7 linked regions of the Homo sapiens genome follow. The protein of the gene in region 4 purifies or fractionates together with the protein of the main gene of each other region. This does not show direct contact. Each region holds a gene or a part of one and is shown on either strand. Other genes may lie near its edges. The genes, in order: P4HTM, ANO10, NPEPPS, SLC35F3, ENPP1, TRPM7 and SNX19.

Region 1 (3,500 bases), on a different chromosome or scaffold from region 4:
AAAGCTACGGACCGGTAAAGGTTAATCAGGTATAATTAAGTCTGTCCGGGGTTCGACAAACAGCATCTTGTCCAAGGTGAGCATAGCCCAAGGCTATGTGCCTGCCCGGAGACTCAGCTTGGGGTTCCGAGGCATGTGGGCAGTAGTAGCAGGCCACTAGCCAGGCTGTCATCCTAGGCCTGGGAAGGACAGAAGGTGGTTTTCCCTACCCAGCATAGACAGCTGCCTGGGAGCCTGTCTGTCCTCTTGGCCAGACAGAGGACTACCTGCTCAAAAAGCAGTTCCTAGCTGTGTCCATGGAAAGTGTACTTCCACCCTGTTTGAGACTTGTGCCTCTCTGGATTCTGGTTTGTAAATCTCCTTGGGGGGCGGCAGAAAGAGGGTTGTATGTGTTTCCATGGAAGCACACACAATTTGCATGGCCACTGCAGAGGCCATGGCTACAAAGTCCCAGGCTCTCCCTGGCGGGGTTAGCCCCTATTCTTGGCACTGGTGAGGGTGCCAATGGCGCACAGCCAGTCGAAAATTTTGGTGGCCCTGGCTCCAGGCATAGGCCGTGGTTACCAACAGCCAGCAGGCCTCCATCTTCCCACTCAACACATAGGTCCCTGTGTGCCTTCCTCGAAAAAGATTGTACACACATGTGACATCCAGCTGCAGCCAGCGTTGCAGGGTGGGCTCCAGCTCTGCAGGGGGCAGTGGTCCTGTCTTCAGCACCTCTAGTCTGGAGTACAGGTTGCAGTCCCAGGGGCCAGAGGAAGTACTGTTGGTCCTGGAGAACCTGACCTTCACTGCTGAGTGGGAACAGAGGGGCCGGTGAGGAGATGGGCCTCTAGGAGTCCTCCCTAAACCCCCAAGAGTGTTTAGTCCATCAGTCCCCTCCACCTAGTAGACTAAACCCTTTTGTCTGATGCTCTGCCCTTAGAATCAGTCTGCCACCTTCCTTAGCAGAATTTTTGGTTTCATTTTGTTGTTTTAGCAATGTCCTATGCTTGTAAAGGAATTTTTTCTTTTTGTTCCAACCAGGCATAGCATTTGGATATTCCCTCTTACACTGCCTCAGCCCCGAGCCAGGAGCTGCAATGGAGGCACTTGGAAGGGGTGTGTAAAGCTACAGGCCCAGGACTCATCAAAGTCACTGGTGCAGAGAGTGTCCAGAACCTCCTTGGAGGAGCCTGCATCCTGCAACTCGCAGTCCCTGCAGCTGGCATGCAGCGCTGGGAAGAGGGGCAAGGCGAGGCACTGGCCAGTGTGGTTGGGGGTGGAGTGAGGAGGGGGTGGAGGGGGCTGATCCCTCCACTTTTCCCCCTTTTTTACCCTTTTTGAGACGGATGCCTGCTGTAGGTGACATTGAGTACAGTTTACCTGATCCCTGTATGATTTGAATGATTTGAAAGGGGTGGGGCCGAGCAAGGTGGAGACCAGCCATGTGCAGACTCACATGGGCGGTCCAGGCGGGAGCCGTTGTTGGCCACAGCAGTGATACAGAGATCATGGCCCAAGGGGAAGCGTCCACAATGCAGGATGGCTGGCCAGGGGTAGCTGTAGCAGGCCATGATGGGCTCGCAGCTGGCCTGCATGGCCTCGCACAGGCTGTAGGAGGGGTAGATGACCCTTTGGGGGAAAGGGTCGGGGGCTGCACCGCCACAGGCTGAGCACCCAGATCAGCTGGAACCTCTCCATGTTCCTACCCCTGTCTCGTGGCCTGGAACTCTCTGGTTGCTGGGCAACGACACTGGTCGCCTAGCAACAGCCCCGTAGCCTGGCTTTCCCACTTGCCCCACATCTCAGCCCTCAGCTCTGCCTCTTCACTCCCGCCCTCCCACTCAGGTGCCTTGCCAGCTTTCCAGTGCACCTCTCCCTCCGGCTCTGTGGACATCCATTGTCTGCAAGAGGTGGCCTGCACCTTGGGCCTTTACTCTCCATCTTAAAGTGAGGAAACAGGGCCCTCCCTCTTGTCCTGAAAGGCCTTCGGGGCACCGCAGCCAGGGCTGGGGTTGGCAAACAGTTCAAGGGCTTGATCCTGAGTTCTGCTGACATGGCCACCCAGAGGCTCTTGGGAGAAACCATTGTTCACAGGATAGGTTAGGCTGGGGAAGAGGAAACAGCCTTGGGATCTCTGGACTCTCTGGGAGAAAAGGCCACCAGAAGGGCCTCTGCTCCATCTCTTGCCAGGGTCTCTTTGGACAGACATAGCTTCCACGCCTCATTGGAGAGGAGGTTCCAGCCCGCCTGCCCCCAACCCCCAGCCTGAAGCGACTTGTCCACCTGCCCTATCTTGACATTCAAGAGCCCTTGACCACCATTGATGGTCTCCTGCCTAAGGGCACCTGGTTCCCTCTGTCTGGAACACTCTAACAAAACGATCCATTTTCCTCTCTGTGCCTGTCAGCGCCCAGCCCTGATAGGTGCTCAGGTGCTCAGCAAGGATTACTGAAGACCTGAGCCACCAGAGCAGGGCCCTGAGGGAGCCCTCCAGGGCCCTGCACCTGGAAGCCCCTGTCCTACCTGTCAAGGCATACAGGGGTAAATAGCAGAGGAAGAGGCGGGCATCGGGGTGGCACTCCCAGGCAAGCAGGAGCAGCCAGCTGACCAACTGCTGGATGGCCTCAGCTGCTGTGATGTGGTCCAGCAAGTTGGGCAGACGCATCTGTGTAGCCAATGTCGTGGCATAGGGCCATGGCTTGGGGAATGGGCATGCACCTCATGCAGCCCCAGGGAGCCCCTGACCCTGCTGTCATCCCACAGCATCACCAGTGTCACCAGCAGCCACAGCCCCTGCTCCATCACTGCCTTCTGTGCCTTGGCCTTAATGAACTGAGGTTGAGGGTTTTATAGGGCTGTTCCTGCACCCAGGGAGCCAACAGAGGAGATCCTGCAGGGGTTTGCACAGCTCCGAGGTGCCCGGACCCACCTGGTGAGGCCCCAACATGCTGACTGGGCTGTTTGTTTTTGATTAGCACACAGCAGGGGACTGTAGAGGCTGGAGGCACCTCCACTGGGCTTGCAGATTACTGGCACCTAATAAACTGAAGAAACCTGGGCCTGTGTTTTCTTTTCTTTTTCTGGCTTCCTTTTTCTTTCTTTTTAAATTTTGTGTGTTAAGCAATCAAGAGGTGACTCTGTTGATTTGCAATTTGATCTAATCCATTGTTCCACAGGGCTGTCTCCCCTTGGATCACACCCTTTCTGGGTTTGCTGGGGTCACGGGATCATGCAGGCCAAGAGTGGGGGCCTTTGTCCTATCCTCAGTGTTATCACATCAGGGTCACCTGCTCCTAGTAGCTGAATCTGGTCATGAGCATGGTTTCTGGAACACAGCAGGCTGGGTGGCCAGTGGCAAGGCACTGATTTCTCTGTGCTTGGGTTTCCTCTTAGATAGGAAGGTTGAATTAATGGGGCCTGGCCTCCTAGGGTAAGTATAAGGATTAAGGAGTTGATGTGTATGAAGTGCTTAGGACAGTGCCTTGGGCAGAGTCTGTGCTACCTAAGTATTTTCT
Region 2 (3,500 bases), on a different chromosome or scaffold from region 4:
AGCTGCCAGAGGCAGCCTGGTGCCTAGGCACCGTCCCAGCCCACGCAGCCAGAGCCTGCAGTATGGCCTGGGAGAAATCTGTTTCACCCCTCCTGGCCCCAGCTCGCTTATTTGTGAAAGGTGACAGACAACAAATCAGAGACTTGCAAGCCTGGGGTGGCCAGTGGAAAAACTCGAAGGCTCGTTAAAAATTCAGAGAGTCTGGGGTCCACTGCAGGGCCTGCATTTAACCAGGTCTCAGGATTCTTAAGTGGCCATGAGACTGACTGTTCTTCAGGGTTCCTTCCTAATCATAAATTCTGTGATCCTGACATCACTTCTGCCAGTGCTCACCACTTCCCCATCGGGGAGGGTGTGGGAAGTGCTCTTGGGCCAGGGCTGTGGTTAGGGCTCAGCCTCCTCTTCACCAGGAGGACAGCCCTCCTGGAAAACAAATGGGATATTCCTGTTGTACGTCGCATGACCCCCATACTGAGGGTTGCAGACTCATGAGTGGTAGATAGCAATTGGTTTACCTAAGAGAAGCCATCTTAGGGCCAGCCAGCCGGTAATGAGTATCTGTGGCTCTGACTCCATTTGCAGCCAAGGGAGGTAGAGGCCTGCCCCATTTACACAGAAAAGGTGTGAATGTCAGCCACTGATTTCATGACAACTTAGCTTGTCTCAGGAAAGCGGGCTGTTGCAGCTCATTTCCTCCAAATCGCTTGGGTTTTTCTTTGGACTTTAGCTGCAGGTTTTAATTTCTGGTTCTGCCATTGGCTTAGGGTCTTCCAGCTGGGGATTGTGGGCACAGGCAACCCAGGGAGTCGAGCTGAGCCCCCCTCCATACCATGGCCCTGGGAGGGAGAGTGCCCTTGGAAGGAAACCACCTGGTCTGCCACTGCCCTGTGGAGGCCCTGGGAGCACAGCCTTCCTGTCCCCTCCTGTTCCCCTGGCTGCCAAGCTGGCCTTGAGACATCCCATGGCCGTGGCCCAACTTGGGGATCACAGAACACTCCAGTGAGGCTTGGTCATTCATGGCTTTAAAAGAAGCCTTGCTCCAGGACAGGTGAAGGAAAGAGCAGAAATGTGCAAATGGCTCCTGCCTGGCCTGAGGCAAGGGAGGACTGTAGGGTCCCTGGCCATTCTTTCTACCTTTGCCACCAGTAGTGCAGTTCAGTGCAGATGACCTTGTGACCTCGTGGACATCCTCAGGCTCTTAGGTGCTGCCCTGAGCAAGGCAGGCACTGCAGGTGGGAGGAACCCAGCCAAGTGGGTTCCGAGTTCCTTCCCTGAACTTGGGTGAAGCCCCCAACCCTGGGCCTGAGAGAAGGGGCTGTGGCCCTGAAGAAGCCCCTCATGGGCACATCAGTTATAAGGACAAGTGGGGGGCACCCCAGAAGCAGCCCCAGGAAGTGAGACAAAAGTCACATTGGGTTTGGTCATTTGGAGGAGAAGGCCCATCCACCCTGGCTACTGTGGAGCAGGGGGCCCCTCCCAGAGAGCTGCTGGATGCTTCTGTGCCTGACCTCACGGGGCTTCCAGCCACCATGCCTTGAAAGGAGCCTCAGATGCTCCCATTTTGATTTTCTTCCCCATGTGGAATGCCAGGGAAATGTGGCTGCAAGATTCCGTGACAAGCTGGGGAATGTTCTGTCTTCATTATTGTTTTAGTTTAGTTAAATTTACCGCACACAGTGGCTCATGCCCGTAGTCCCAGCTACTTGGGAAATTGAGGCAGGAGGATCCCTTGAGCCCAGGAGTTCGAGGTTGCAGTGTGATCACGCCTCTGCACTCCAGCCTGGGCAACAAAGTGAGACCCTGGCTCTTGAAAAAAAAAAAAAAAGACATTTTAAAAGTCTTACAAGTATTAAATGATAACAGCTAGAAGAGTCTGCAGTGAACCTGGGCTGAAATATTACAGTTTTTATTTATGGTGATATTTTATATCTGTAGTTAACAGCATGGGCTTGTGGGAAGACCTGAAATGTTAGTAATGGAAGAGGTAGCAGATGCAAAAAACTCTGGGGAGACTTTTACAGTGCCTAGCAGTTCAGCCTTTCTAGGTTTGTGAACTATTAAACCATCTCTATCCCCCTGGCAGGATGAAGGTTATAGAAATCTTGCAGTGGTGGGTCATTTGGACAGGGCATGTCCCTGGGCCAGTGTTAACTTGTGTGTCTACCCCCTACTCCAGGCCTACTGAAATGCTGTGGCCCCTGCAGAAAGAACCCTCTTACCCCCACCGCAGGTAAACTGGTCACCTTGACTCTCCGTAGCCCCCTTTCTCATCAAAAGCCATCTCCTAAGCCCTGCTTAGACCTGGATAAGAAAGGGCCAGCCAGTCCCCTCCCCAAGCCAAATGCAGAGGGCTCAGCTTCCAGGAGCCATCATGAGCCGCCCTGTGGGAGACAGGCCAGGCTCAGAAAACATGAGAATGGTCAGGAGTTGAGAGCACCTTCCTGAGGTGCTGCAGATCTAAAGGATCCTTAGGAGGGTAAATTAAAGCAGCAGACAAGGACTTTTGATTGACAGTCTGTGAAAGGGGCTTCTCCCACTGAAAGCCACAGGGAGCATGGTATTGCTTCCAGCCCTGGGTGGCACTTGGGGCTCTCAAGATGAGTAGCCAGGTACTGGGGGTACCAGCCATGTTTGCGCTCAGAGTTTTGTTTTTCCATAGGTGAATCACTGTTATCAAAAATCTGTTTGAAGCCAACTTCCACAGTATTATAGTTATTCATTTATTCAACGAATAGGGCAGAGCTGTAGTGGTGTTTTCTAGCCATAAAACCGAAGTGACTGGGAGCTTCAGGGCTGGGGTAGGGGAAGGTAGGAGCAGCAGAACTGTCCCCTACGCCGCTGCCTGACTTGTGGGAACAGGCTCTCCCTTCTGACACCTCCCTGGAAGTCTCCCATCCTGCCCTCGAGGAGGGCACCTCTATCTTGACGTCACCCTCACAGAGACTTCATGGGTTGTTCCCAGTGAGGATGGGGGCGGAGGGGTGAGTGTAAGTCCTGTGGCTGTACTAGGGACAAAAGGCTGGTGAGAAACATCTGATGATTTGGGGCATCTGTTCTGTGCCAGGGACTTCATGGACAACAATACTTGCAGCCACCCTGCAAAATAGGCACTATTGCTCTCACTGCAGATTTGGAAACTCCGGCTCAGTGAGGTCAAACTGCCAGGGTCGCTCAAAGCACAGGGGCAAAGCAAGCACTTGGTCCCAAGCCTGTGCCCCGTCCTCTCTCAGGCCCTGTCCGCCTATTCCCCTCATCCTGGCCATCCAGGGAGGAGGAGACGCCAGCTGCTTCTCATTTCAGTGTCCTTAAAATCCCTGCTGGTCTGGGCTCACACAGTGCGACATTGCATTTCCACCACACCAACTGTCTCCCATCTCCTCAGAGTCAGACCCAGGGACTTGCAGGAAGCTGCAGGCAGCATCAGAGTCACCACTTCCCTGGGGTCAAAGCCGCTGGCCAGGCTTCCACAGAGAGCAGAGGCCTCGGCCACTACTTAGGCT
Region 3 (3,500 bases), on a different chromosome or scaffold from region 4:
AAAGTGCTGGGATTACAGGCATGAGCCACCATGCCCAGCCAAGACCTCTTTTTCTTGATAGCTTTATTTTTGGAGGATTTTCTCTTTGTCAAATTCCTCGTTAAATACATTTATAAGATTATCTACTTCTTTTAATTTAGAGAGGTAAATTGACAAGTTTAATAGATTTATAGTAACTAAAAGCAAAAGGTCTTGGGCTGGATATGGTGGCTTACACCTGTCATCCCAGCACTTTGGGAAGTCAAGGTAGGCAGATCGCTTGAGGTCAGGAGTTGAAGACCAGCCTGGCCAACATGGTGAAAACCTGTCCTTACTAAAAATACAAAAATTATCTGAGTGTGGTTGCACACACCTGTAGTCCCAGCTAGTTGGGAGGCCGAGGTGGGAGGATCACTTGAACCCAGGAAGCGGAGTTTGTAGTGAGCTGAGATCACACCACTGCACTCCAGCCTGGGTGACAGAGCCAGACCCTATCTCAGAAAAAAAAAAAAGAAAAAGGTCTTGACTTATTAAATGTCATAAGAAAGCCAGGTACAGTGACTCTTGCTTGTAATCTCAGTGCTTTGGGAGGCTAAGGCAGGAGGATTGCTTGAGGCCAGGAGTTTGACACCAGTCTGGGCAACATAGTGAGACCTCATTTCTACAAAAGATTTAAAACTTAAAAGTTAGCCAGGTATGGTGGCACGTGTCTGTAATCCTAACTACTTGGGAGGCTAATGTGGGAGGATCTCTCGAACTTAGGAGTTTGAGGCTACAGGGAGCCGTGATTGTGCCACTGTATTCCAGCCTGGGTGACAGAACAAGACCCCATCTCTTAAAAAAAAAAAAATAGGCCAGGCATGGTGGCTCATGCCTGTAATCCCAGCACTTCAGGAGGCTGAGGCAGGTGGATCATTTGAGGCCAGGAGTTCGAGACCAGCCTGGCCAACATGGTGAAACCCCATCTCTACTAAAAATACAAAAATTAGCCAGATATGGTGGCAGGCACCTGTAACCCCAGCTACTTGGGAGGCTGAGGCAGGAGAATTGCTTGAACCTGGGAGGTGGAGGCTGCAGTGAGTTGAGATCGCGCCACTCCACTCCAGCCTGGGTGACAGAGCAAGACTCCATCTCGGGGGAAAAAAAAAAAAAAGGTTGCAACAGAGCAAGACCCTGTCTCTTATGTTTTTAAAAAGTTAAAAAAATTCAAAAGATGTAGCTGCGTAATGAAGTATATTTAGGTCTCTGGCTGTTTGTATTCTTGGAATGTATTCTCTTCACCAGTGTTATTGATCTCATTCATGAACAGGGTAAGCATTCCCCACTTGAAGTGTGTTGTCTAGGACTGTCTTGTGTGGGGAACTTGGAAAAACCTGCTGCACCTGAAAATAACTCTTTTATGTATTTATTGGGGGAGAGCATCCCATAAATAGAATGTCATTCTCTTCTCACATATTCTTAGAAGAGGAGGCTAATATATTAAACGGAAATATTCATTCACACTTTAGTATGAGTGAATTTATCAGTGTGTTCTTGAATAAGTCTTCCTTGGAAGGAAGAATAGAGAGAGCTTGAGGAAACAGAGCCTGAATAGGAAAAAGAGGGAGAACACCAAAGGAAATTAGGGACTCCAAAGGTAAAGTTGAAATTTCTTCACAAATAAGCTTAGAGCCAACTTTGGTAGAGAATGCCCTCGATCTAGAAGTTTGTATCCTTTGAAATGGGAGATTCTACAATTATATTATATTTATTTATTTTTGAGAAGGAGTCTCGCTGTGTCGCCCAGGCTGGAGTGCAGTGGTGTGATCCCAGCTCACTGCAAGCTCCGCCTCCCTAGTTCACGACATTCTCCTGCCTCAGCCTCCCAAGTAGCTGGGATTACAGGCACCCCCCACCATGCCTGGCTAATGTTTTGTATTTTTAGTAGAGATGGGGTTTCACCATGTTAGCCAGGATGGTCTTGATCTCCTGACCTTGTGATTCGCCTGCCTAAGCCTCCCAAAGTGCTGGTATTACAGGCGTGAGCCACCGCGCCTAGCCCCTATTTTATTTTTATTAATAGTCATTTTCTCCTAAACTTATGTCAGTTGAAAAGTATGAAGCCCTTAACTTAAATCATCCCAATGCCTGGCTTATAATAAGTATTTGAGAAAAGTCCATTCCTCTTTTCTTTCACAGGTCCTTGGTAGTTTTAACACTTCAGCCTCCAGCTTCTTAGTATGAGTGTTTTATCAGACCACTTTCCTTCTTAAAGACAGCATAAAAGCACTGGATGAATTGGGGTAGAGAAATAAGCCATGCTAGAATAGAAAGGGGTAAAGAGATGCAATAAAGCCTACAGTTTTTGGCTGGTATTTGCTCTATGGTATTAATGTAAACCTATTTAAATTTTTCTTTTTTTTATTTCTTAAAGAATGTAATTGACCGGAAACCATACCCTGATGATGAAAATTTAGTGGAAGTGAAGTTTGCCCGCACACCTGTTATGTCTACATATCTGGTGGCATTTGTTGTGGGTGAATATGACTTTGTAGAAACAAGGTCAAAAGATGGTGTGTGTGTCCGTGTTTACACTCCTGTTGGCAAAGCAGAGCAAGGAAAATTTGCGTTAGAGGTAAATGTACTTGAAGAGGATTGTTCCAACAGTCCATAACTCCAGGTTGGGGAATTTACATTTCTGGTCAATTATTAGTACAGTTATTTATAATTTAATCTGAAAGTTGTGCTACTTGGTTTATTTTTAGTAGAATTTAGGAAATGCCAACCTTGGTGTTTCATTATTTTACAAAATAATAATTAAGAGAATATAAGAGTGGAATTTCTCTAGGGAATGGGTTGGAAAATATGTAGTTATATTTTTCATATCAAGTTATAAATGGATTAAAGTTTGGCCATTGTATTCAAAGTTTGGAGCTAAGGCAGTCTTCGGAGGGTAGGGCTCCTCGGGATTCATTTCTAGTAATTTAAGATACATTGGCTTGCAACAGGATTCCTTTGTGGGTTTCAATATGAATTATAATAACATATTTATTAGATGGTTATTTTGTTTATACTTTTATAGGTTGCTGCTAAAACCTTGCCTTTTTATAAGGACTACTTCAATGTTCCTTATCCTCTACCTAAAATTGATCTCATTGCTATTGCAGACTTTGCAGCTGGTAAAGTAAATTTCATTTTATTGCTGAATTGTAATAACTTTTTAAAATTTTGTGACTTTTGATGCAAGAGTATATATATATATATATATATCAATAAATGTTTATATTTATTTTGTGAAGGTGCCATGGAGAACTGGGGCCTTGTTACTTATAGGTATGTTAATGATGTGTTACCCTGCCTTATCTTTTCAAATCACTGATTTCAAAAGGGCTTCCCTCCTAATCACAGTTGAGTAGCTTCTGCTTTACGATATGGTGTAAATTTTTCTACCTTCCCCCACTTCCGTGCACATTTCAAGAATGCAGATGGACACCCCTCCCTTTGGTGCTACTGTCTGAGGGTGTAAGATTTTAAAGTGAGCA
Region 4 (3,500 bases):
TTATTAATGTATTAATGCAGCAAAAGAGGTTGTCTTTTTGTTTTTTTTTTCTTTGTTTTTTGAGAGGGAGTCTCACTCTGTCACCCAGGCTGGAGTGTAGAGTGCAGTGGCATGATCTTGGCTCACTGCAACCTCCACCTCCTGAGTTCAAGTGATTCTCCTGCCTCAGCCTCCTGCGTAGCTGGGATTACAGGCGTGCGCCACCACATCCTGCTAATTTTTGTATTTTTAGTAGAGATGAGGTTTCACTATGTTGGCCAGGCTGGTCTTGAACTCCTGACCTCAGGTTATCCACCCACCTTGGCCTCCCAAAGTGCTGGGATTATAGGCGTGAGCCACCACGCCCGGCCCAGAAGAGGTTTTAAGGCAGAACTTTTGCTGTTTGCCATTTCTACTCAATTGATAATAATAAAGAGGCTTATCTATTACCTGTAGGTATCACCTAGTTGCTTTATTTGTTGGTTGGTAATTGTACTCTATAAATGGGGAGAGATGATGGTTACAAAAAAAACAAAACAAAGACAAAAAAAAAAAATTCTCATGATCTCCAGAGTGAGTTATGGAAGCTCCAAGCTATTATGTCACCTTTCAGTCATCTTTCAAAGTGATTTATCTGTGTCCTAACTGAAGGAGTTGCCAGTGAAAGTTTCTGGATGTAAGTCATTTGCCCTTGTAGCAGAAGAAACCATTTGAATGACCCAATATTCATTTGTATCCTCTTCATTTTTAGATTTTGTTTGGGTTGTTAAGATAAATGAGGTAATTGTGAACAGTACAGAAATTACCTTTGCTCAGTATTCTCAACTCAGTCATTTGGATTCGCAAGTTTCGCTCTAGACAAGAGAATTTTGTAAAGGATTCTTTTTTTTTTTTTTTTTTTTTTTTTGACAGAGTCTTATTCTGTCACCCAGGCTGGAGTGCAATGGTGCAATCTCGGCTCACTGCAACTTCCACCTCCCGGGTTCAAGCGATTCTCCTGCTTCAGCCTTCTGAGTAGCTGGGACTAGCACCACCATGCCTGGCTAATTTTTTGTATTTTTAGTAAAGATGGGGTTTCACCATGTTGGCCAGGCTGGTCTCGAACTCCTGATCTCATGATCTGCCCACCTCGGCCTCCCAAAGTGCTGGAATTACAGTCGTGAGCCACCGTGCCTGGCTTAAAATTTGCCCAGCTTCCCCAAATAATAGTATTTTTTTTTAGAAGGAGTTTTGCTCTGTCGCCCAGGCTAGAGTGCAGTGGCACAATCTCAGCTCACTGCAACCTCTGCCTCACAGGTTCAAGCGATTCTCCTACCTCAGCTTCCTCCTGAGTAGCTGGGACTACAGGCACCCACCACCATGCCCGGCTAATTTTTGTATTTTTAGTAGAGACAGGGTTTCACCATGTTGGTCAGGCTGGTCTCGAACTCCTGATCTTGTGATCTGCCCTCCTCGGCCTCCCAAAGTAATGGGATTACAGGCATGAGCCACCGCACCCAGCCTAGGATTCTTTTTTAAAAATCCCAAAGGCTCCTGGGTCTGAAAGGGATGGCTTTTGTGAAACATTCAACTGAGAATTAAACTGTAAACAAGGAAGTAAGAAGGGCCCAGTTCCTCTTCTCAGTGGCAAAAGTCCTCCAAGCTCCACATTCCATGTTTTTGAACCAAACCACTTGGCAGTATTCCTGGGAATTCTTCAAATTATCATCTGTTGAGTGGATCCAGGGCCCAGAAAGCACCTGGGCCACAGGAGGGACTCAATAAATATTTGTTGAATGAATGGATGGCTGCTGCACGAAATACTGACCTCTGGGACAGGGAGCTTTGAATATGCCTCTGTAGTGATTTGTATCATTTACCTCTTTATGCTGACTTCCTGTTATGTGGAATTGCTCTACTCTTTCCTAGTTCTTCCATCACAAGTGCTTCCTGAACCACAGACTGGACCAGAATTCTTGGTGATAAGCTTTGGTTTGGCCCAGGGTTTCTTGATCTCAGCACTATTAACCCTTTGTGCTGTATAAGTATTTGTTGTAGGGAGCTGTCATGTACATTGTAGGATGTTTAGCAGTATCTCTGACCTCTGCCTATTAGATGTCAGTAGCTTACCACCCTGCCCCCTAAGTTGTAGCAACTCAGTATCCCATGGGGGGCAGCCTTTAGTTGAGACCCACTCATTTAGGGTAACCCCCAAATTTATGCTGCAATAGAACTCTCTTCTGTTGCCCAGTAATGCTAAACAAGCAGGCCTACCTTACAAATTCCTGACCCTCTCCTTCCTCACCTTTCTTCCTGGACCACTTTTTAGGTTTTCAGGATGGCCAGATCGAGTAATCATCACCACTGGCAGTGCAAGTGTCTTCTGAAGATTTGAAAGAGCCTGTTCCTTCTGCAGCTGGCATGATTCCACAACCAATCATCATAAATTGACACCCTGTAGGAAGTGCTTTAGAATTCAGGAGACTCTGAACAGTTTCTTTTAATAACTTCCTTTTCTTTCCTACCTTTTGCCCCAGTAGAAGAGAAATGACTGATTAGAATATCTTCTGCTTCCTTTTCCTTTCTCATTTCTCTGGGATGGACACCAATTAGGGAGGAGATGGCTAGAGAAGGGATGAGGAGAATCAAAGACCAGGAAAAATCTGTATAGTAGACAGCCAGCCCCAGGCATCTGATAGGGTGGGACAGCTGGTGGCATTTCCATACAGGAATGATTGAAGGAACATATCTTGGAGTTTCCAGATAGAGGCTCTGCTGCAGGATGAAGGAACATCTGCGAATACTCCTTTATTTTCATTTATTCATTTAAAAAACCTTTTTTCAGCAGTCAGTGTATGTCAGAATAGAGAGAGAAGTGCTGGAAGAGGTGGCTCACTGTCCAGGTGTGCCTTCGTCTAGAAATACAGGTCAACACAAACCTGCATTAGAACACAGACATTCTAAGGGTGGGCAGGATGTTTCCCTTTCCGAAAGGTTTCCCTAAAGGATGTTTTCAAATATTGAACTCTTAAATCCTTTTCTGGGTAAAAAGTCCCCAAAACATTTTACGAATAGCTTTTTTGAAGGGGGTCATGCTTATTGCTTAACATGAAGTGCAATTATCATTTGAGTAGGTTTATACACTTTGTTGAACGTCAACTATTATTCACTACAGGTTCTGGTATGTTGAGATTTAAATGCTTTTTTCCAGAATGTGAATGGAATGAGTTTTAAGTCATTTGTAGAATGGAGAGAGGGTCAGTCTTAAAAGACCAACTGTCTCTAGCCCACTCCAGCCCGCTATTGGCAACGTGAACCTGGGACAGGAACATGCAGGTTAATGAACAAATCCCAGCTTATCTGGGTGGAGGTTTTCTAGTTCAAGCTGAAAAAATGTAGGGCACTGAATAACACACCTGGTGACAAGGAAATTGCATGTTTCAGGATTCTCCAGGTTTAAAAGTTGTAAAGGGTTTGTATGAGGTGAGGGGGAAGGGCTCATGGAAAGGCTGTCTTCCTAGCGTCCCTGTTAGTTCACCCTG
Region 5 (3,500 bases), on a different chromosome or scaffold from region 4:
AAAACCACTTCTGTCTTGATGCTAGTGGTTTTTCTTCTGTCTACTATATTGCTTATAGTTAATTTGTCCATGAAATAAAAGATAGAGGTGACTTCTTAATGCTTTTCAAAGCCAGGTGGTTTTATTTACCGTTGTGTTGGTTTAACAAAATAGTTACATACTTTTTAATCAATGAAAATAATGTTATGATTATCAATTATGTTTTATGAAAGGACTTTACATTTTTAATTCATATATGTCAACATTAGGAATCCCTCAGAAAGGAAATATTGTGGAAGTGGATTTCATGGCTCTGACAATGTATTTTCAAATATGCAAGTGAGTAAACCTATTATACTTAATTGGATTAAATCTAAAGAAAAAATGATATGCAAAGTTTTAGACTTGAAAACATACTGTGATTATATGTCTTGAATGAGAATTAATGGAACATACTTTCATAAAGCTATTTTTCTTTGAACATTAAAGAATTTTGTTAAAGTTTTATATTCATTGGCTATTACTAAAAAGTCAAAAAACAACAGATGTAGTAAGGATGTGGAGAAAAGGGAACACTTATACACTGTCAAAGGGAATGTAAATTAGTACAACCTCTATGGATCACTGTATAGAGATTTCTCAAAGAAATAAAAATGAAACTACCCCTAATCTAGCAATCCCACTACTGGGTATCTACCCAAAGGAAAAAAAATAATCAGTTTATCAAAGACACCTGCACTCGTATGTTTATCGCAGCACTATTCACAGAAGTAGTCATGGAATCAACCTAAATATTTATAAATGGATGATTGGATTAAAAATGTGTGAGATATATATATATATACACACACACACACACATACCATGAAATACTACTCAGCCATAAAAAGGAATGAAATCATGTCCTTTGCAGCAACATGGATGGAATTGGGGGCCATTATCCTTAGTGAAATAACTCAAACAAAAAGCTAAAAATCACATGTTCACTTGTAAGTGGTAGCTAAACAGTAGGCAAACACGGACATACAGAGTGGAATAATAAACATTGGAGACTCCCCAAAGGTGGGAGGGCAGGAGGAGTGTGAGGGATGAAATACCACTTATTGGGTACAATGTACACTATTCTGGTGATGGGTAACACTAAAAGCTCAGACTTCACCACTGTGCAATATATCCATGTAACATAACTGTACTCATACCCCTAAATTCATAAAGTTAAAAAATTAATAAAATTTTATATTCATGTTTCATAAACATATGACATATCTCCTATTATATTTCTAATAATTATTTTTCAAATTTTTGTGCTCTGTTGAGAGTATTGCTTTACAGTTGAAGAAAACCAGTGCTATAATAGATAAGAAAGTATCAGACTTATGTTCTGAGAAGGATAATATCTTACATTTACCCAGCACTTTAACATTTTCAAAATAAACTTACAATAATTATTTAATTTGATCCCTGCATCACTGTGTAAGGTGGGCAGGATGAGGTTTATATTGCATGTCATAGATGAAAAAAAAATGTTATCATTCATTCTGTTCTGATTGTCAAACCAAGAATTGTAGTAAAACTAAGAGACCTATCCTAGATGTCCTTAGATTATGTGTGTGATAGGGTTAAAACTATATTTCCCACAAAGTCCACTGAGCGTGGTAGTTTTCCTCTTATCTTATCATAACCAGTTTGTATATGTACAATGTGGATAACAGAATTTTTGGGACCAACTTGTAGACAGCTGAAATGCACTGATAAACTTCCTTTTCTGGCCATCTAGGCCCTCTTTGTTGGCTATGGACCTGGATTCAAGCATGGCATTGAGGCTGACACCTTTGAAAACATTGAAGTCTATAACTTAATGTGTGGTAAGTGTGAACAGGTGCCTTTTTTCCCTTCTGAAAATAGACCTGAAATAGGATTATCAAAAGCAGGTCACATTGTAGGCAACTTTGTGGAGATGATGGTGAGGCAAGACAGATTTTTACCTTCTTCCTGACTCTCAGACTCACTGAAGAAATGTGGGGAACATGTCATCTTATTACTTATCTGTTTGTTCCACTAGGCTGCTTGCTGGTTAAAGTACACCACTCACAGCAGGGTGGTCTGCACACCCCCACTGCCCAGCACTTTGCTAGGCCCTCGGCTTAGTGATTTGATTCTTGACTCAGAGCAGTGATAGAAGCCAGAAAAAGGAGATTGAGGGCAGTGAAAGGTGGACAAAACTTTTGGAACTTCTGGTAGCCATAATGGTTGAATATAGGTCAGTGTCAAGGTTGCAGAAATGAAGGAGGACCCATTAGGGAGATTCTTGGTTTACTTTGTACCTTCTGAAGTAGTCCTTTTGTGTTGAAGCATTGTGTGTTTTAAATATTAGTTTCTTATTCTGATAATGGTCCTAGGCATCTGCAAAACCTTAAATATGTCTTAAGTATAATTCTTTTAGTGGGAGTCTATATAGTTTAAATGAGTTAATGTATCCTAAAATACTTAAAACAGCAGCTGGCATATAGTAAGTGCTTACTACATAAGTATTTGCTGTTATTACATTTAAGAGCATGAGTCTTAGACTCAGACAAAGCTGGTTTTGAATTCTAGATCATTTAGTTAGTAACTTTGAGACTTGGGTAAAACACTTTGATTACTCATCTACCAAATATTGATGATAACTTATAAAATTGTTTTGGGGAATAAATAAGAAAATATGTTAGTACCATGATTGGCAAAAATATGCATTCAACAGGTTGTGACTGTAGTTATTGTATGCTTTAAATATCAGAAATTTTGTAGTGAAATACAGCATACATATCAGTATTTCTATTAAAAATAACCTAGTCTTAAATACTCTAAAACCCAAGAGAGTTTTATACTTTTATTTTAGTTAAAGAGTAAATGACTCATGTATTTGGTTTTAAAAAAGTAAAGATCATGGCACAAGTCTACTATTTGTTTGATTTGAAACATCTAAGTAACTCTACCATCTTGAAATTATGCAGATTTACTGAATTTGACACCGGCTCCTAATAACGGAACTCATGGAAGTCTTAACCACCTTCTAAAGAATCCTGTTTATACGCCAAAGCATCCCAAAGAAGTGCACCCCCTGGTACAGTGCCCCTTCACAAGAAACCCCAGAGATAACCTTGGCTGCTCATGTAACCCTTCGGTAAGTATCGTCAAGAAGTTTGGTCCAGTATGTATGGTTTGATAGCACCCTCTGCATAGCATGTGCTGTAAAAATACTTAATAATCAAATTAGAATTTAGGAGTGGGGGTAGGTAAACATATGTTTTAATTCTAGGGGGCGCATGTAGATCTTTTGTGATATATCTTTTCTCTTTCTAGTTTTTGCATTTTCCACTCTATTTTTAATTCCTTGGAGCTGTGACTTGACTTGGGTGCAGGTGTGGTGAAGTCTAGTTAGTTGACTTGGGTACGGGTGTGGAGAAGTCTAGTTCAGTTCTTGAGCATCCTGAATTAGGGAATCTGTGCTGTTAACTCTAGCAGTGAGGTGATGAGCACAT
Region 6 (3,500 bases), on a different chromosome or scaffold from region 4:
GAGTCATGAATCTTTTGGCAATAGGGCAGATAAAAAGGAAAAAATGAGGCATAACCATTTCATTAAGACAGCACAGCCCTACCGACCAAAGGTAAATTTATTTAAATATTATTCTTTCTGGGTTTTTATTTTCTTCTTTCTAAATTACTTAGTATTATTAAACAAAAAAAACTAATTGATTTAGTAAGAATTACCTTTCGTTTTTGGATATGTCCTAGAATTGTCATTTTCTCACACACAGAGATATTAATTATAAGTTAATGATTCTGTTCCTTTTTTTTTTTTTTTTTTTTTTTGAGACAGGAGTCTTGCTCTGTCACCAGGCTGGAGTGTAGTGGCACAATTTTGGCTCACTGCAACCTCCACCTCCCAGGTTCGAGTGATTCTCCTGCCTCAGCCTCCCGAGTAGCTGAGACTACAGGCACCCAGCACTACACTGGCTAATTTTTTGTATTTTTAGTAGAGACTGGGTTTCACCATGTTGGCCAGTATGGTCTCGATCTCTTGACCTCGTGATCCATCCTCCTCAGCCTCCCAAACTGCTGGGATTACAGGCGTGGGCCACCGCGCCCAGCGTACATTTTCATATTTAGGTATGATAATAACCAAATTAAAATGTTTTAATAAATGTTTACCTGACTCCTTTCATTCCAGTTTTACTTGATTAAGAACATGTATAACAAAAATGTTATCTAACCCTTTATTAAAATTATGTTCTATTAGAATATTAGTTGAAATATTTAGGCCCTTAAATTTTGGAAAATGTTTATTGCAAAGGCATTTTTGTTGAAACAGCATTTTCATAAAATGAATTATGAGCTATAATAAAAATCAAGTTTATAAAATTTATGCTATTGTGCAGTTTTATGGAGCTGAATAATGTAAAGATATTTTACTAAAATTTTCACTGACATAAATTTCATATGGCCTTATTATAATGAGCTTTATAACTTTATTTTCCCTGGAAGATTGATACAGTTATGGAAGAAGGAAAGAAGAAAAGAACCAAAGATGAAATTGTAGACATTGATGATCCAGAAACCAAGCGCTTTCCTTATCCACTTAATGAACTTTTAATTTGGGCTTGCCTTATGAAGAGGCAGGTCATGGCCCGTTTTTTATGGCAACATGGTGAAGAATCAATGGCTAAAGCATTAGTTGCCTGTAAGATCTATCGTTCAATGGCATATGAAGCAAAGCAGAGTGACCTGGTAGATGATACTTCAGAAGAACTAAAACAGTATTCCAAGTAAGTGGTATTTTATCATTTGAAAACATTTTAAAAATTCAAAGTAGGTATTGTTTGAGTGGCTGTTACAGTGCCACGTACTTAATGGTGATGTATTTATATGTATAATCTTATTGGTACAATTGACAGAAAATTATATAAGTATATATTTTTTTAATTAAAAGAAACTTTCTGCCTCTATGAAAAAGAGGTTATTATATTTGCAACTCAAGAATTAAATATCTCAGCAAGAAAGAAGAAATGCAGCCTGGGCAACATAGGCAGACCCCGTCTCTACATGAAATTTAAAAATTAACTGGGTGTGGTGGTACTTGTCTGTGGTCCCAGCTACTCAGGAGGCTGAGGTGGAAGGATCACTTGAGCCTGGGAGGTTAAGGCTGCAGTGAGCTGTGATCATGCCATTGCACTCCAGCCTAGGTGACAGCAATAGACCCTGTCTCGAAACAAAGAAGAAATGCCAGAATTCATTTTAATTTTTGCAAATAGTAGCAATTGGATTAGAAAGTTCCATTTGAATTGGTAAGGAAAGGGTGGAAGTGAAGTTGGAGCTGTGTTATAAGAAAATAGACTGAATTCAACTGGGAAGGCACTTCAGAAGCTAGAACTACATACACAGAGTAACGACATAGTTCATAAAAGTTTACAATTTACTTAGAGGGGCAGTGTTGGAATATTAAACTGGAAAAGTAGTTTGTAGAAGTTTTCTAATATATACTAAGACCTCCGGCTCCCCAAGTGGGGTATTTAGAGGGCAGTGATAATTGTTACTGAAAATAACTCTTTAACAGGGATCCTATGGTTACTTAGTGGGACTTCAAGATTCAGATGTTTTTCATAATTAGGTTAGTCCCTAGTCACATTGTTTTTCCTCTCTACCAGGTACCAACTGTTTTCTGTGTTTGAAATACTACATAAACTTTTTTGAACAGAGCATTGTAGCATTGTGAGTTTTGATTCCCTTTGAGATTATAGTTTGATTTCTAGGACCGGGAGAATGTGCTCTGGATTCACCTTCTCAATCTTGTACATAATGCGACATATTTTAATATTTTGTGATTTCCACATAGATGTAGATGTCTGAAAACAGAGTTATGGTTTTAATGCCTCATAATTCTGTAAGTGTGTGTGAGAATATTAAAAAGTAGGAAGTATTAATGTATATAAGAATAGTGGTTTAAAATTGCAGTTTGTTAATCTGAGTATATTTTGGCTTTTATCTTTTTATAGTGATTTTGGTCAGTTGGCCGTTGAATTATTAGAACAGTCCTTCAGACAAGATGAAACCATGGCTATGAAATTGCTCACTTATGAACTGAAGAACTGGAGTAATTCAACCTGCCTTAAGTTAGCAGTTTCTTCAAGACTTAGACCTTTTGTAGCTCACACCTGTACACAAATGTTGTTATCTGATATGTGGATGGGAAGGCTGAATATGAGGAAAAATTCCTGGTACAAGGTATACTTTAGAAATAATTTGATATAAAGCATGTGATTAGATAAAAAGAACAGAAGAATTAGTCTAAATGTGTAGTAAAATGCCTTGATGTGTGAGTGTAATGGTGGGGGGTAAAGAGGGAGCAAGATGGATGATTGGCATTTCATCCCAAGTGGTATAATGGGCTTCTTTTTTCCTCTACTTAACTTTTGAATCCTTTTCAGGTGTCTATAATGATTATGGCCTCTCTTTGAGCTAGAAGGGGAACAAATGGCAAATATTGGAGATTATGGCCCCTAGCAGCCTTGAAAAAAGTTACTACTTTATGAAAAGATTATTCCCAAATTCTGAAATTCAAGACCTATCTACTAATTTAATAATCTGTTACTTTTAAGTTACTTAAAGTATATTGGATGAGTATATTGATATACCCATTATAGATAAGTATATCCATGTGGCCTGTTTTTATGATTAAAAATTTGGGTAAAATGGCATGTACCTTTGGTTTTGTCATGGTGATAGATACTGCTTTGAACTTTGCTTTTTGTTATCTTATATCTTTTAAAATAAGGTGCAGAAATGTAGGAGTCAGAAATCAGGCAAATAGTTTAACCATAGGCCACTGAATAACCAACAGAAAACCTGTTACACAATTACAATTTCTTCATGCTTTGGGATTTTGCAAGTAATAAGTAAAATTTTAGAAATAAACCTTTTTGTTTATAGAGGCACAAGCTGAGTAATCACATTATGACATGGAACACTTGCAAAGAGATTTAGGATAAAATTAAGGACATAGCACCTTTATAAGGCTTG
Region 7 (2,865 bases), on a different chromosome or scaffold from region 4:
AGAATAGACCTTATTAAGGGAGGAAAAACACTTTTGGAGTTTACCTCCTTTACACATCCTGCTTGCATGGAATCCAAATTCAGTGAGCTGACGGCAGGCCAGTTCCTTGCCACTTTATGCAGTTGTGTTTAAAGTTTACCCTCTGTTATCTATAAATGCAAGTGGCTTTTTCAAGAATAGTGAGGGCAGCTTTCATTAAGGACTCATGCATCTCTAGGAGAATCACATGGGCTTAGTTGGCAGTAGAGCATTTTCTTGGGGACAGAATGTATTATAGATGGTTTAGGCAGGAGGTTAGACGAGAAACTTCCAAAAAAATCTAGGGATTTTTTATTCTGCCCAAACCAGCATGTTCCTTCCTGCTTTCATTTTTTTGTTCATGTCCTTCCTTCCACGTGGTAGATTACCTTCTCTTCTCCAGCTGGGCAAGTAGGCTACCTCTGCCCATAAGGACCAATTCAAGTTCCATTTTCAAGAAGCACTGTCTGATTGCACCAGCCAAAACTCTTCCCACTTTCTTTTCAGTTATTTACACTGCCTCTCTAGTCAATGTGCATGTATATGAAGTCCTCAGTAAGAGACTATAATTCTTCAAGGGCAACGAACATATCTTTTATCTTTTTTAGTCCTATTATGTCCTTATGCCCCCCCCCCAACTATATGTATATACCTAGTGCATGATAGGTACAAAATAAATATTAAAGTTTACTTAATTAAAGATTATGTTTATTTAAGAGGCAAAATTTGTGAATAAGTCTGGATCTTGATACTGTTACTTTCATTTTGTTGATTCCTTTCTCCCAACCTTCCACATCCCAGAGACAGGGTGCTGGTGACTTTTATGGAAAGGCTTGAAGGGTGAAGATATGTGGAGAAACCACCGTAAACCTCTTTGAGATTAACCACTTATTCCAGTGGAGGGCACTGGCTAGTCTGTACCAGACCTGCCCCAGACAGCTTTGTACATCTTGCGTGTGGGTGGGAACCCAAAAAGTTTCCTTTTCAGTGGATCTGTTTAGGTGAGGTAAAGAAATCCATTACTCAAATGTTTCATCAGAGGCTACCCCCTGTTCAGGTGTGCACCCTGCACCCATGTGGGTTTGCGGATGGCATATAACACTTGCAGCAGCAGAGCTCGTTGCCACACATCCAAGGGAAGTAAGTGTGCATATGTGGATGCGGCGGGAATACCTGCGGTCTTTCTGCTGAAGAGCAGGGTTATACACCTCCTTTTAGCAATCTGGAGAGGACTGAGGCAAGAGCTTGTATTGAAACACAAGCAAGCTCCACGTATGGTTTTGGACATGGAAGAAAGAGTACTGTTGGGGTGGAATGACCTAAGTTTTTAATAGGATTAGGATTTCTGTGGATTTTTCCCAAGTGATAGAAGTTTTCTTCATCTAGCAGGGAGCCTCACCCAATTGCTTCTCTATGTTCATTTCTGAAACTCCTTTGTTAAAACTAAATAGCAACAGAGAAGAAACTTTCTTCAAAAAACTCTTCATATCTGTCATTTCTCCTATTCTTATGGAACTTCACAATTGCTTTTTCTTTATTCCTTTTTTTTTTTCTATATCAGCTCATCAGTCTTTGTGGGTGACTTGGCTACCCCACTAATCTAATTGCCTTTTTGATAGTTAAATCAATATGGACATCAACTTAAGGCTATATGTGAACCTTAAATGCATGATATTCCCTATACTTGATTCCACAATTGATATTCTGTGAGGAAAGTTGGCCAGATATTCCCTTCTGTGAAGTCAGAATAACTACCGACCCTAAGAATAAACATTTTGACCAATTCTTTATATGTTGCAAACTATTCACACAACTAGAAAGTTTAGCCATTCACATCTCTTCCCCTGATTTTAAGTCCCAGATTCTGAGACTCAGAAAGTTTAGTGACTTGTTGAGCTTTCTGTGGAAAATCTGTTGTAAAAACAGTTCAGACATTGGAAAATATAAAATAGCCCCTAGAGATCCCAATAAAGCTTCCTCTCCCCAAATCCCTCTACAAGTTTATCCTCGAAAAACTTTCTGAAAACTGATGAGAAAATACTGAGTAATTAATGCTCAAATGGGAAAGATGACATGTAAAAGCAAAAACCTGTTAATGGCATCTGTTCATATAGTTCCATGTGCCTTTTTACTTAACTGCACTGATAGGCAATGTAATGAAGAAGTTTCCTTTTAAAACGTAAAATGTAATTAAACAGAGTTTATCTTAAATTGGCTGGACCCGCACAGCTTGACTGAGACATACACAGCTGTCTTCATTTTGAAGCACCTACACTAGTCAAGCTTCTTTCTAACCCGCCCTTAGGGTTTGCCTGTTGGTCTGTCTTCCCTACTGGGCTGTTAATCCCTTGGAGGCAGATTGTCTTGTTTCCCAGAGTTTTTCCAGCATATACCATGGCAGACAATTTTCACCTTATCTATTCTAACTCGTAAGCCTCAGCTAGTGCCTCCATCCTCGGGTGCATAGCCCAGTGACAGGCATGTAACAGACTTTGCCTACAAGCAGTTGCTGATCCATAAATGACGTTGGCAACCTTCTTGTGGCAGTGAGTAACATATTTCTTTCCTCCTGATAGGCTTGGAATCCTCATCCCCATCTGGCAATTTTCTTTCCATCTTTCCTACACTCACAATGGAGCCCACACGCCTCACAACCCCCTTGACTAAACCAGATGACAGCAAGAATGCCTAGTTCCAAGTGAGCAAGGGTGAAGCCTTAGGCCCTTGTCTCCTCCAGACCTCCTCTCTGCTCTAAGAGTATACTGGGCATGGGGTGTGGTCGGGGGGTTGGGGGCGGAGGAGTACTTAACCTCAAACTGAGAAAAAGGGTGTCCTGAGCAAGTTTCA

The links.
Region 1: the proteins of SLC35F3 (region 4) and P4HTM purify together in Homo sapiens (affinity purification with mass spectrometry; one large-scale study listed by BioGRID and IntAct). This does not show direct contact.
Region 2: the proteins of SLC35F3 (region 4) and ANO10 purify together in Homo sapiens (affinity purification with mass spectrometry; one large-scale study listed by BioGRID and IntAct). This does not show direct contact.
Region 3: the proteins of SLC35F3 (region 4) and NPEPPS purify together in Homo sapiens (affinity purification with mass spectrometry; one large-scale study listed by BioGRID and IntAct). This does not show direct contact.
Region 5: the proteins of SLC35F3 (region 4) and ENPP1 purify together in Homo sapiens (affinity purification with mass spectrometry; one large-scale study listed by BioGRID and IntAct). This does not show direct contact.
Region 6: the proteins of SLC35F3 (region 4) and TRPM7 purify together in Homo sapiens (affinity purification with mass spectrometry; one large-scale study listed by BioGRID and IntAct). This does not show direct contact.
Region 7: the proteins of SLC35F3 (region 4) and SNX19 purify together in Homo sapiens (affinity purification with mass spectrometry; one large-scale study listed by BioGRID and IntAct). This does not show direct contact.

The regions. Positions count from the first base shown.
Region 1 is NC_000003.12:48,996,741-49,000,240, forward strand, and holds part of P4HTM (transmembrane prolyl 4-hydroxylase), read left to right. Parts: exon of another isoform or gene 1-1,932; intron 1,933-2,175; exon of another isoform or gene 2,176-3,043; intron 3,044-3,500. UniProt on the Homo sapiens protein: Catalyzes the post-translational formation of 4-hydroxyproline in hypoxia-inducible factor (HIF) alpha proteins. Hydroxylates HIF1A at 'Pro-402' and 'Pro-564'.
Region 2 is NC_000003.12:43,367,012-43,370,511, reverse strand, and holds part of ANO10 (anoctamin-10), read left to right. Parts: intron 1-3,500. UniProt on the Homo sapiens protein: Does not exhibit calcium-activated chloride channel (CaCC) activity. Can inhibit the activity of ANO1.
Region 3 is NC_000017.11:47,583,108-47,586,607, forward strand, and holds part of NPEPPS (puromycin-sensitive aminopeptidase), read left to right. Parts: intron 1-2,392; coding exon 2,393-2,593; intron 2,594-3,040; coding exon 3,041-3,137; intron 3,138-3,257; coding exon 3,258-3,291; intron 3,292-3,500. UniProt on the Homo sapiens protein: Aminopeptidase with broad substrate specificity for several peptides. Involved in proteolytic events essential for cell growth and viability. May act as regulator of neuropeptide activity.
Region 4 is NC_000001.11:233,907,676-233,911,175, forward strand, and holds part of SLC35F3 (solute carrier family 35 member F3), read left to right. Parts: intron 1-3,500. UniProt on the Homo sapiens protein: Mediates thiamine transport.
Region 5 is NC_000006.12:131,874,020-131,877,519, forward strand, and holds part of ENPP1 (ectonucleotide pyrophosphatase/phosphodiesterase family member 1), read left to right. Parts: intron 1-248; coding exon 249-318; intron 319-1,756; coding exon 1,757-1,844; intron 1,845-2,972; coding exon 2,973-3,142; intron 3,143-3,500. UniProt on the Homo sapiens protein: Nucleotide pyrophosphatase that generates diphosphate (PPi) and functions in bone mineralization and soft tissue calcification by regulating pyrophosphate levels.
Region 6 is NC_000015.10:50,610,298-50,613,797, reverse strand, and holds part of TRPM7 (transient receptor potential cation channel subfamily M member 7), read left to right. Parts: coding exon 1-91; intron 92-968; coding exon 969-1,249; intron 1,250-2,476; coding exon 2,477-2,705; intron 2,706-3,500. UniProt on the Homo sapiens protein: Bifunctional protein that combines an ion channel with an intrinsic kinase domain, enabling it to modulate cellular functions either by conducting ions through the pore or by phosphorylating downstream proteins via its kinase domain.
Region 7 is NC_000011.10:130,868,615-130,871,479, reverse strand, and holds part of SNX19 (sorting nexin-19), read left to right. Parts: 3' UTR 1-2,865. UniProt on the Homo sapiens protein: Plays a role in intracellular vesicle trafficking and exocytosis. May play a role in maintaining insulin-containing dense core vesicles in pancreatic beta-cells and in preventing their degradation. May play a role in insulin secretion.